Linked DNA regions of Homo sapiens: region 2 is linked to region 1. Evidence: fine-mapped expression QTL. Tissue or cell type: whole blood. Region 1 holds a variant in brackets; the other region holds the start of a gene. All regions are shown on one strand. Distances are between the middles of the regions.

What was found. PIP is the estimated chance that this variant, and not a neighbour inherited with it, causes the effect.
Region 2: PUM3 starts here. The variant in region 1 is fine-mapped to the expression of PUM3 in whole blood (TOPMed, PIP 0.98).

The regions. Positions count from the first base shown.
Region 1 is chr9:2,763,480-2,768,703 of GRCh38, forward strand. No RefSeq gene overlaps it. Among named protein-coding and RNA genes, the nearest start is that of KCNV2, 49 kb to the left of the region's middle. The variant T/C (reference allele first, on the strand shown) is at 2,274.
Region 2 is chr9:2,841,706-2,846,929 of GRCh38, forward strand. PUM3 (pumilio RNA binding family member 3) reads right to left here and starts at 2,390. Exons shown (of 18, transcript NM_014878.5): 1 at 2,340-2,390. RefSeq lists enhancers at 1,419-1,980, 2,364-2,658, 2,482-2,721.

The DNA.
Region 1 (5,224 bases):
GGGGAAGGGCTATTATCATCCTTGCTTTAAAGTTAAACCATAAACCTAATTCCTGCCAAACCTAGCTTGGCTTATGCCCAGGAATGACCAAGGACAACTTGGAGGTTAGAATCAAGATGGAGTAACTATGTCAGATTTCTCTTACTGTCAAAATTTTGCAAAGGCGTTTTCACTTCTGGCACCCAAATCTGCAAATGAGGGGAGTTGGGCTGACTAGCATATCTCTAAGGACCCTGGGATTCAAAATTATATGTGGATGGGTGCTTTCTGTGTATATGCCCTTATTGTTCCTTAAAAAAAATAATGGTGTTGCAAACTCACATCTCACCATACATTCCCGGGAAAATCAGCCAAATCCAGAATAAATGTGCATGATCCTTGCCAGCTGAAAAAGGATTAAAAAGAGAGAAAACACCTGGCACAGGCCCTTGAAATACTTTTGCTCAAGTCTATTAAACAAGGCACAAATAACACTTGAGATTGCGATAATCTAATAATCTTTTTGTGAACACTATAGCTAAAGATAGATATGAGCAGGGGCTTCATCAAGAAAGGAGGGCAAGGCTGGGCGTGGTGACTCATGCCTGTAATTCTAGCATTTTGGGAGGCTGAGATGGGTGGATCACCTGAGGTCAGGGGTTTGAGGCCAGCCTCGCCAACATGGTGAAACCCTGACTCTATAAAAATGCAAAAATTAGCCAGGCATGGTGGCAGGTGCCTGTTATCCCACCTACTTGGAAGCCTGAGGGAGGTGAATCACTTGAACCCAGGAGGTGGAGGTTGCAGTGGGCACTATTGCACTCTAGCCTGAGTGACAGAGTGAGACTCCATCTCAAAAAAAAAAAAAAAAAAAAAAAAGAGAAACAAAAGAAAGGAGGACAATGCACTCATATTCTCAGACCGCTTCATTATAGAGTTCTTATTACCAGCATAACATTGCCTGCCACTGACTCAGAGTCACACGTCTCTGCTCCACAAAGAAAGAAGCTGTCCTTGCCGTGGGTGACAGCCATTGAGAACTACAGACTTCTCTCCTGCTTGAGAGAAATGCGGCACAGGAAACAGCAAGAATAATTCTGATCAGTGGTTGTCAGGCAGTTTTGTAACTTACAAAGTATTTTCCCTTGTAGAGTTTGGTTCATCTAAGATCATGGAAACAGGAAGTGGCAAACTCCACAGTAGCCACAGACAGGAGCTATGACCAGGGCCTCATATGATGCTCACAGCAGTAAGGCTTGGCTCTATATACCAACACAGGTATATAATAAAAGGAAATTAAAATATTTTATCCTAGGCCAGGCGTGGTGGCTCATGCCTGTAATCCTAGCACTTTGGGAGGGCAAGCTGGGCAGATCACTTGAGGTCAGGGGTTCAACACAAGCCTGGCCAATATGGTAAAACCCCATCTCTACCAACAATACAAAAATTAGCTGGGCATGACGGTGCATGCCTGTAATCCCAGCTACTAGGGAGGCTGAAGCACGAGAATCACTTGAACCCGGGAGGCGTAGGTTGCAGTGAGCCGAGACTGCGCCACTGCACTCCAGCCTGGGCGACAGAGCAAGACGCTGTCTCAAAATAAATAAATAAATAAAATAAATAAAAAAAAATATTTTATCCCAAAACCTATTTCTGTGACGTATTTTAAAAGGGCTATCACTTGGCCTATCACTTCTGACAGAAGTGGATTTGCAAAGCTGCCTTAAGTGGGGAAAATTTGCATCTATAGAGAACCTTCATTACTGTAACCACGCCCCCTCCCCTTTCTATACCTTCCCCGCTCCAGGAAAGATTGAGAGTCTGACACCTTTTAAAGTCTTAAAATAAACATTTACCATCTATTTTCTTTGGGGAAGGTTTCATCTATGTAACAAGGCCATCTTTGCTAGCCAAGCTTCTTCCTTTCTGTCTCTCTTCACATGTCTTGCCACTAAACCTGACTGACCTGTTTCTGGCCATGCTCTGAGTCTGCATTCTTTACTGTGGCCTCAGTATGGCATATAAGTTTCTGTTACTCACTGGGAAGTTGGCCTTTTCATTTTGAAGCCTCCTGTGTATATACATGTCTTACTCTATTCTTGCATTGCTATAAATACTGGAGACATGGTAATTTATAAAAAAAAGAGGTTTAATTGGCTCATGGTTGTGCAGACTGTACAGGAAGCAGGATGTTGGTATCTGCTCAACTTCTGCTCAGGAAACTTAGAATCACCGTGGAAGGCAAAGGGAGCAGCAGGCACTTCACATGGCCAGAGCAGCAGCAAGAAAGCAAG[T/C]GAGGAGGTGCCACACACTTTTAAACGATCAGATCTCATGAGAACACACTCTCTATTGCGAGGACAGTACCAAGAGGGATAGTACTAAACCACTCATGAGAAAACTGCCCCCATGATCCAATCACTTCCCACCAGGCCTCACCTCCAACACTGGGGATTACATTTCAATGAGATTTGGGTAACGACACACATCCAAACTATATCAACATGTTAAATAAATTTGTATACCTTTTCTCCTATTAATCAATCCGCTTTATGTCAGTGATTTTCAGCGAGCCTTTAGGAGGCCAAGAGCCTATGGCCCCCACAATACCACTACAGTACATACAGGCACTATATACCAGGAATTATAAATTTACACGTGTCTTCCTACATGATTGCATTTGATGCTTACATTCCTATTACTTGCAACAAAGTATCTCACCTAATAAAATAATGGAAAAGGTCTATTCCCTTGCCCTAACTACTTTTCTCACACACACGCAAAATAACAGTCCTGGCGGGGCACTGTGGCTCGGGCCTATAATCTCAGCATTTTAGGAGACCGAGGCAGGCGTATCACTTAAGGTCAGGAGTTCGAGACCAGCCTGGCCAATATGGTGAAAACCTGTCTCTACTAAAAATACAAAAATTAGCCAGGCGTGGTGGCGCATGCCCATAATCCCAGCTACTTGGGCGGCTGAGGCAGGAGAACTGCTTGAACCTGAGAGACGGAGGCTGCAGAGAGCCAAGATCATGCCACTGTACTCTAGCCTGGGCAACAGAGTGAGACTCTGTCTCAAAAAACAAAACAAAAACAACAACAACAAAACAGTTCTGCTGGACAAATGGAGTTTGTATTATTTATCATATTATGTATTGGAGAATCTCCACACGGTATGAACCCTCTTAGGTAGATAAGCAGGGCAAGAATTATTATCTCTATTTTGTAACGAGAAAATATTACTCTGAAAAAAATAAAAAGAATTTAACCTGTAATCTTTGCATTACACTCTATACATGCTGCTATGTCTCTATACATGCTGCTAGTATTAGGGAAGTTTAACCTCAAAAAGTTTCCCAGAGTTAGGTAAAACGGTCATAAATTTGATGTGGAAAAATAATTGCTTCAGTATAGTCAAGGAAGACAACTAGGAAATATAAAATAATGGGGAAAAGGTGTGGCTCTGAAATCAAATTAAAAATATTTGTATGATAATCAATAAACATACTAGTGGAACTGAACAGATAATCTAGAAATAGATCCTAGTTTATGTGAGAATATATCATAAAATTAATAGTTCAGTTCGATGGGGGAAATCATGGATTTTTGAATAACTAGTACCTGCACAATTGGCTATTAATATGGAAGAAAATTAAACTCTGTAACGTATACCTTCATACACACACTAACATCCAATTTTAGAAGATTAAATACCTAAATGTCAATACTTGTTGACTAAATAATGACAAATTGAAATAAAAACTCACACACAAAAAATCAGAATGACTACATGTATAACAGAGATAGGGAAGGCTTTCCCAATCAAAATTTAAATCTAAAAACTCTAAGAGGGAAGATGAGCTTTTTATGATAAAAGATAATATATCATAAACAAATGATATATTGGGAAAAATATATTTATAATGCTCATCAGGTAAAAGATAAGTATCTCAAATAAACAAAAAAACCTACACTTTTTAAAGAAAAGGACAACTCAAGAGAAAAATAGGAAAAGGATACAAATAAACAGTTCACAGATAAACACCTCCAAATTGCCAGCAAAACATATGAGAAAATGCTCAAAGTCAAGGACACGTAATACCTTGTCAAGGACAAGATATCCTTTTATATCTATCAGACTGAAAAAAATTGAAGAGAGCTATAATATTCATTGCTGGCAGCGATGTGGGGGGAAAAGGACACTGTTTTACACTGATGATTTTTTAAAAAGGAACTTTGTTTTTTTTCTTTTTTTTTGGCAGAGCCTCATTCTGCCACCCAGGCTGGGGTACAGTGGCACATTCCCAGCTCTCTGCAACCTCCACCTACCAGGCTCAATCAATCCTCCCCTCTCAGCTTCTTGAGTAGCTAGGACTACAGGCATGTACCACCATGCCCGGCTAATTTTTGTATTTTTTGTAGAGATGGGGTCTCCCTATGTTGCTCAGGCTGGTCTTGAACTTCTGGGCTTAAATGATCTACCTGCCTCAGCCTCCCAAAGTGCTGGGATCACATGAGTAAGCCACTGAGCCCGGCCATGACTTGCTAAAAAAATATTTGGAAAGCAATCTTGGAACTTCCACTAAAATTTAAATATACATGTCCTTTGACTCAATAGTTTTACTCTTGGCATTCTATCCCATAAAAATAAAATCACTAGTGTGATGGAATACATAAAAATGTTAATGGCAGCATTCATTTATTCAACACATTTTATTCAACGGCTATTTTATGCCTGACACTCTTTCAGGAGCTAGAGAACAACAAAAAGATTCTTGCTGGGTAAATCTTGTTGGGGGAGGTAGACATGAATAATCTTAATAAGTAAATAAATACACCCTAGTATATTAGAAACAGATAAGTGTTTAAAAACAAGCAAGAGCACAGTAAGGGGAATCAGCAGAGCTGAGATGATAGGGCAGGGGTGTGAGTTGCAATTTCAGATAGGTGGGTGTCCTACTCAGCTGGGGCTGCTATAACAAATTACCATAGACTAGATGGCTTAGACAACAAATGTTTATTTCTCAGAGTTCTGTATGCTGGGAAGTCCAAGGTCAAGGGGCCGGCCAATTCCGGTCCTGGTGAAGAAGGTCCACTTCCTGGTTTGCAGAAGGGTGTGGTAGTGTATATTGACAGGGTAGATAGAAGAAGCAAGCTCTCTCCCGTCTCTTCTTAGAAGGGTACTAAGCCCATCATAAGGGCTTCCCTCTCGTGACCTAATTACTTCCCAGAGATCCCACCTCCAAAT
Region 2 (5,224 bases), 78 kb after region 1:
CTGCAGGCCAAAAAAAAAAAAAAAAGGTTCTTAGATCAGCCCTTCGGCCCCTCACCCTCTTTAGTGAAGTTACATGTTTATAATATAGTTTAACTGATTTGTCACAGCCTGCATTCCATCCCCAGAAATGCTGGCAGATTTATTAAATGTGCATATAGTCAAGTTTACTCTTTCTGGTGTATAATTCCACGGGCTTCAACAAATGGCTAAGACTCATGCATCCACTACCACAGTATCTTACAGAAAAGTCCTGTCACTCTAAAAAGTCCCCTGGTACAGCTCCTTTGTATTCAACTCCTTCCCTCTTTCCTGACTGCCAATGATTAGGTTTTCACTCCTGTTTTGTCTTTTCCAGAATGGCATTCTTATACATGGAATCATACAATATGTAACTTTTTGAGTCTTGCTTTTTGCACTGGGCAAAATGCAATTTGCTTTGCTTGGGAACCCTGTACCTTCGTAATGAATCATCACATTCAATAGTGTCTCTTGGAATTCGCCCCCCTTTTTCCTTTCCCTCTATTACCCCATTCAGGCTCCTGTTACCTCTTGCTCAGTTTTGTTTAGATCCTATCTGCTTTGATCCACTTTCCGCTGCCTGATTAACCTTCCAGTAGCACACCTATTTCATGTCATTTCCATGCTCCAATAGCTTCAAAGCTTTCCCACTGCCTTCAGGAAAAAGTTCCAACTCAGGCATTCACAGCCATTCAAAATGTGGTCTTAATTCACCCCACTCATCACCACCACACAGGAGCCACTATTCTTATCAGAATAGTGAAGTTTAAAGCCATTCTCTCTACCAACACAATTTCTACCCATCCTTCAAATTCAGTTTAAATGACATTTTCTTATAGACCAACCTCTACATGTTAGCATTCCTCAAATCTTTGCCCTAGGGAACTTCCCTTCTCTCTCCACACTTCTCCCTAGGTGGTCTCATCCAATCTCCTGGCTTTTTATGCTGAGTACTCCCAAATCATGTCTCCATTATGAACTTCTCCTTGGGGTCCAAACTTGTGTATAACTGCTTATCTGATACCTCTAATTATGTGTCTAACAGGAACCTTACCCTTAATATGTCCAAAACATAATTCTCTATGTTGTTCTTTATGTTATTGTTGTTTGCCCCACAAACAACAATATACTATTTTTCCCTGCCCTATCGTCCTCCATCTCAGCCAATGGCACATCATCTACTTTACTGCTCAAGTAAGAAATCTGAGTTACCCTTGACATTTTCCTCTCTACTCTGCCACGCTGAACCATAAGTTAGTTCTCTTAAATGTCCCTTACGTCACCACCCTAATGCAAACTATTACCAATACAATCTCTTGAGCTTCCAAATGTAATACATTTTCTAAAGAGAACCAGGGCCTATTCATGATTCTCACTTGCTTACAAGTCTTCAATGTTTTCTACACATGGTAATAGGAACGGAAATGTTTTCCTATTGTACAGAAAAAAAAATTCCCCATCATGACCTTCAAGGCCCTACAGAACCTAGTTCCACTCTATCCGGCTAACTTTATCTTGTACTCTAACTATACTCCTTCCTAGCTCCCATCTCAGGAACTTAGCCCATTATCGCCTCTGCTTGAAGTACTCCCTGAGCTTCCAAATCTCCGTTTAAAGATCACTTCTTCAGACTCCACTATCTGCCAACTCAGCATCCAGTTCGTTTCCTCCCAGCACTTAGAATCTGCGTACATTCAGGCAAACCGCCTAGCACTGGAGTTGGGGTTTGTGAAGTAGCACAGACAGGCTGATCAGGCCGAGCACGGGCTGGGATTCCGGAGTGAAGCTAGTCCACTCTAACCCGGCACGCAGGGCAACGTGGTGGGAGAGAGGTCGGAGTCCCGCCCTTCTTTTTTTTTTTTTTTTTTTTTTTGAGACGGAGTCTTGCTCTGTCTCCCAGGCTGGAGTGTAGTGGCACGATCTTGGCTCACTGCAAGCTCCGCCTCCCGGGTTCACGCCATTCTCCTGCCTCAGCCTCCCAAGTAGCTGGGACCACAGGCGCCCGCCACCATGCCCGGCTAATTTTTTGTAGTTTTAGTAGAGACGGGGTTTCACCGTGTTAGCCAGGATGGTCTCGATCTCCTGACCTTGTGATCCGCCCGCCTCGGCCTCCCAAAGTGCTGGGATTACAGGCGTGAGCCACCGCGCCCGGCCAGTCCCGCCCTTCTTGCCAGGCTCCAGTCAGTCCCAAACTCCTAGCCCAGAAAGAGGCCAGAGGAGACTGCCCAGTGGACAACAGCCCCGAGAGACCTTCCCGACTTCCAGCGCCCGGCAGGGTGCGAACCCCTCCCAAGAGCGACCGCTGAGCCTGCCACACTCACCGCACACGTGGGACCGAGACAGCTCGCGCAGCGGATCCCGACCGCCTCTCCGCTTCCGCTTCCTTGCCTTGCTCCGCCCCCGGGCCGCTTTTTTTCATCTTCCGCGGCGGATCAGGGACTAAGAGGTGGAGCTTCCCAGAGAATACAAAAATTCGGAATTTCTATTGGTCCGCTGCTGTTATGCCTCCTCTTGAGGCGCGAGGATTTTGGCCCTTGCAAGAATCCGTCGGGCGGAGGACGCGACAACGGCCACGGGAAATGACGTCATTAACCCTGTGGCTTCCGTGCTGGAAAGAGAGGGAGAGCTCTTGCGAGGCAGAACAGGCTGCTGAAGGACAGACCTGGCTGGCGCGGTTAATAAGAGGCCTGCATCCCGTAGCCTGAACAAATATTGAAGTAGCTAAAGTTTCTAAAGTGTGTTAATTTGCATACTTCCTCAGCAGTCCAGCGTGGAGGATAAAAGGGGTATCTTGTGAGTCGATTTGAATTGTAATCCCGTTTTTTTCACTTGCTAGCTGTGTGGCTCTGGGAAAATTACAGTTTTTATGAGCTTTGGCTTCCTGATCAATAAAATAGAAATAATTAAGTGATACGTGCAAAGCGCTTAGCATGGAACGCTCTCAATAAATGTTTGCCATTTTTAGTGTCTGCTCGTGCCTGGAAACTGCTGTTATTCCATTTTATACTTCAGGAAATAAGATTGTGGTTAGGATATATGCCCCATTTTCCAGATGAAGAAACTGACACCACAAACTTGCTCGTGTCAAGCAACAGAATTTTATTCTTTAACTGTTCTAGAGGCAAGAATTCCAAAATCAAGCTGTTGGCAGAGCCCTGCACCTTTTGAAGGCTCTAGGGGAGAATGCTTTGCTTCTTCAGCTTCTAACGGTTCCAGGCGGTCCGTGGCCTCTTGTTGCATGACTCCAATCTCGGCCTGTCTTCTAATGGCCTTCTCCTGTGCCTGTGCCACTTCTCTGTGTGTTTTTAGGACACTGAACATTGAATTTAGAGTCCACGGGGATAATCCAAGATCATCTCATCTGGAGGTCCTTAATCACATCTGCAAAGGCCCTTTTCCCAAATAAGGTCACTTTCACATGTCCTGGGAGTTAGGACATAGACATATCTTTTGGAGACTATTCAACCCACTGCATCTGTAAAGTTGAGGAACTGGCACTTGATCCCTGGTGCCAGACTTCAGATTTTACTGTCTTCCAACTTACTCCGTTTTCTGGCCACTAAGGAGTTAGAGTTGAAACTGGTAATTTAGTAGACTGTATGCTTCTTGATGACAGGGGCCATCATTACTTTCCAGGCACTTATCTCACTATGCAGCACATAGATACTTGATAAGTTCTTGTCGTCTACCTTAACTGTTACTAGTTTACATTTCAGCTCATTTAAATCTCATAAGAACGTTTTAAATAGGTCTTTTCTCATTTTACAGAGAAAGGCAAAACATAGTAGCTTTGGTCCAGTGAGCCTGACTCTAAACTCAACGTGGCTGCCTCCGTACTGCTTTCAATAATTCAGTAAATGCTAAGAGAAGAGAATATGGAACAGGAATTGCAGGAGGCCCATCAGCTGTGCCTTTTGGGCAAATAGCATAGTAGTGGGGATATTAGACACCTTGAAACACCTGACAAGTAAATGCTGGCCAAAAAGAAAGAAAAATCGCAAAATACACCCTATCACACAACCCTGGGAAGGGATACGTTTGTGTTTTCAACTCGACAGACAGCAGCACCCCATATCCTTGAAGATAGGTCCATGCAGTTGCCTTAAGCATCTGCACCAAAACCCTGCTATTCATTTGCCTTTTCACCAGGGAGGAAAAAAAAAATGTTATCACATATCAAAGCCCTTGATTATTATTAAAAACTTTTTTATCAAGTCTTCTGTGAAAGTGGATTGATTTGGATTTTTTTTTTTTTTTTGGAGTGAATTGAAAGCATCGTGTGGTTTTGCAGAACAGCACAAAAAAAGCTTATCCTGTAATTTTTTTTTTTGTCAAGCAAACCCATTAATTCTTCAAATATCTAATGATCTAAATGTAGACCACTAGGTGTACTCCTACAAGCCTAAGATGCTCTTCTTGCGTGATACACAATTTAATCAGAGCAACTAGACTTGCACACATCCAAGAGGTTAATAACAGTACTATAGCAATGCAATGACGAGCATTGAGATTAGAATCAAAGGAACCTGGCTTACAATCTAAATTCTGTATGGCCAAGGACAAGATAGCCAACTTGTATGGGCCTCAGTTTCTGCATATGTAAAATGGGAATAACAACACTTGTTTCTGGAGTTGCTGTGAGGCTTAAAAGTGATAATATCTTAAAGTTCTTAGCCAGTAGTAAATGTTGAGTGATTTGTAGCTTAAGAGAGAACCAAGGTGTACCCATTTGAAATACTTTGGGGCCGGGCGCTGTGGCTCACACCTGTAATCCCAGCAGTTTGGGAGGCCAAGGCAGGTGGATCACCTGAGGCCAGGAATTCGAGGCCAGCCTGGCTAACATGGCCAAACCCCATCTCTACAAAAATACAAAAATTAGCCAGGTGTGGTGGTGCATGCCTGTACTCCCTGCTACTCTGGAGGCTGAAGCATGGAGAATCGCTTGAACTGGAGAGGCGGAGGTGCAGTGAGTGGAGATTGTGCCACTGTACTCCAGCCTGGGCAACAGAGTGAGACTCTGCCTCAAAAAAAAAAAAGAAAAAAAGAAATACGTTTGACTTCACATAACGGAAAGTTCAGCTAATGGTGGCTTAAGCAATCATTTTCTTAACATAAAAATTTGGAAGGTACTTGGTTGTTGTGGTTCAATGACACAACAATGTCATCAAAGACCCACGCTCTTCCAGTCTCTGTTCTACCACCATCC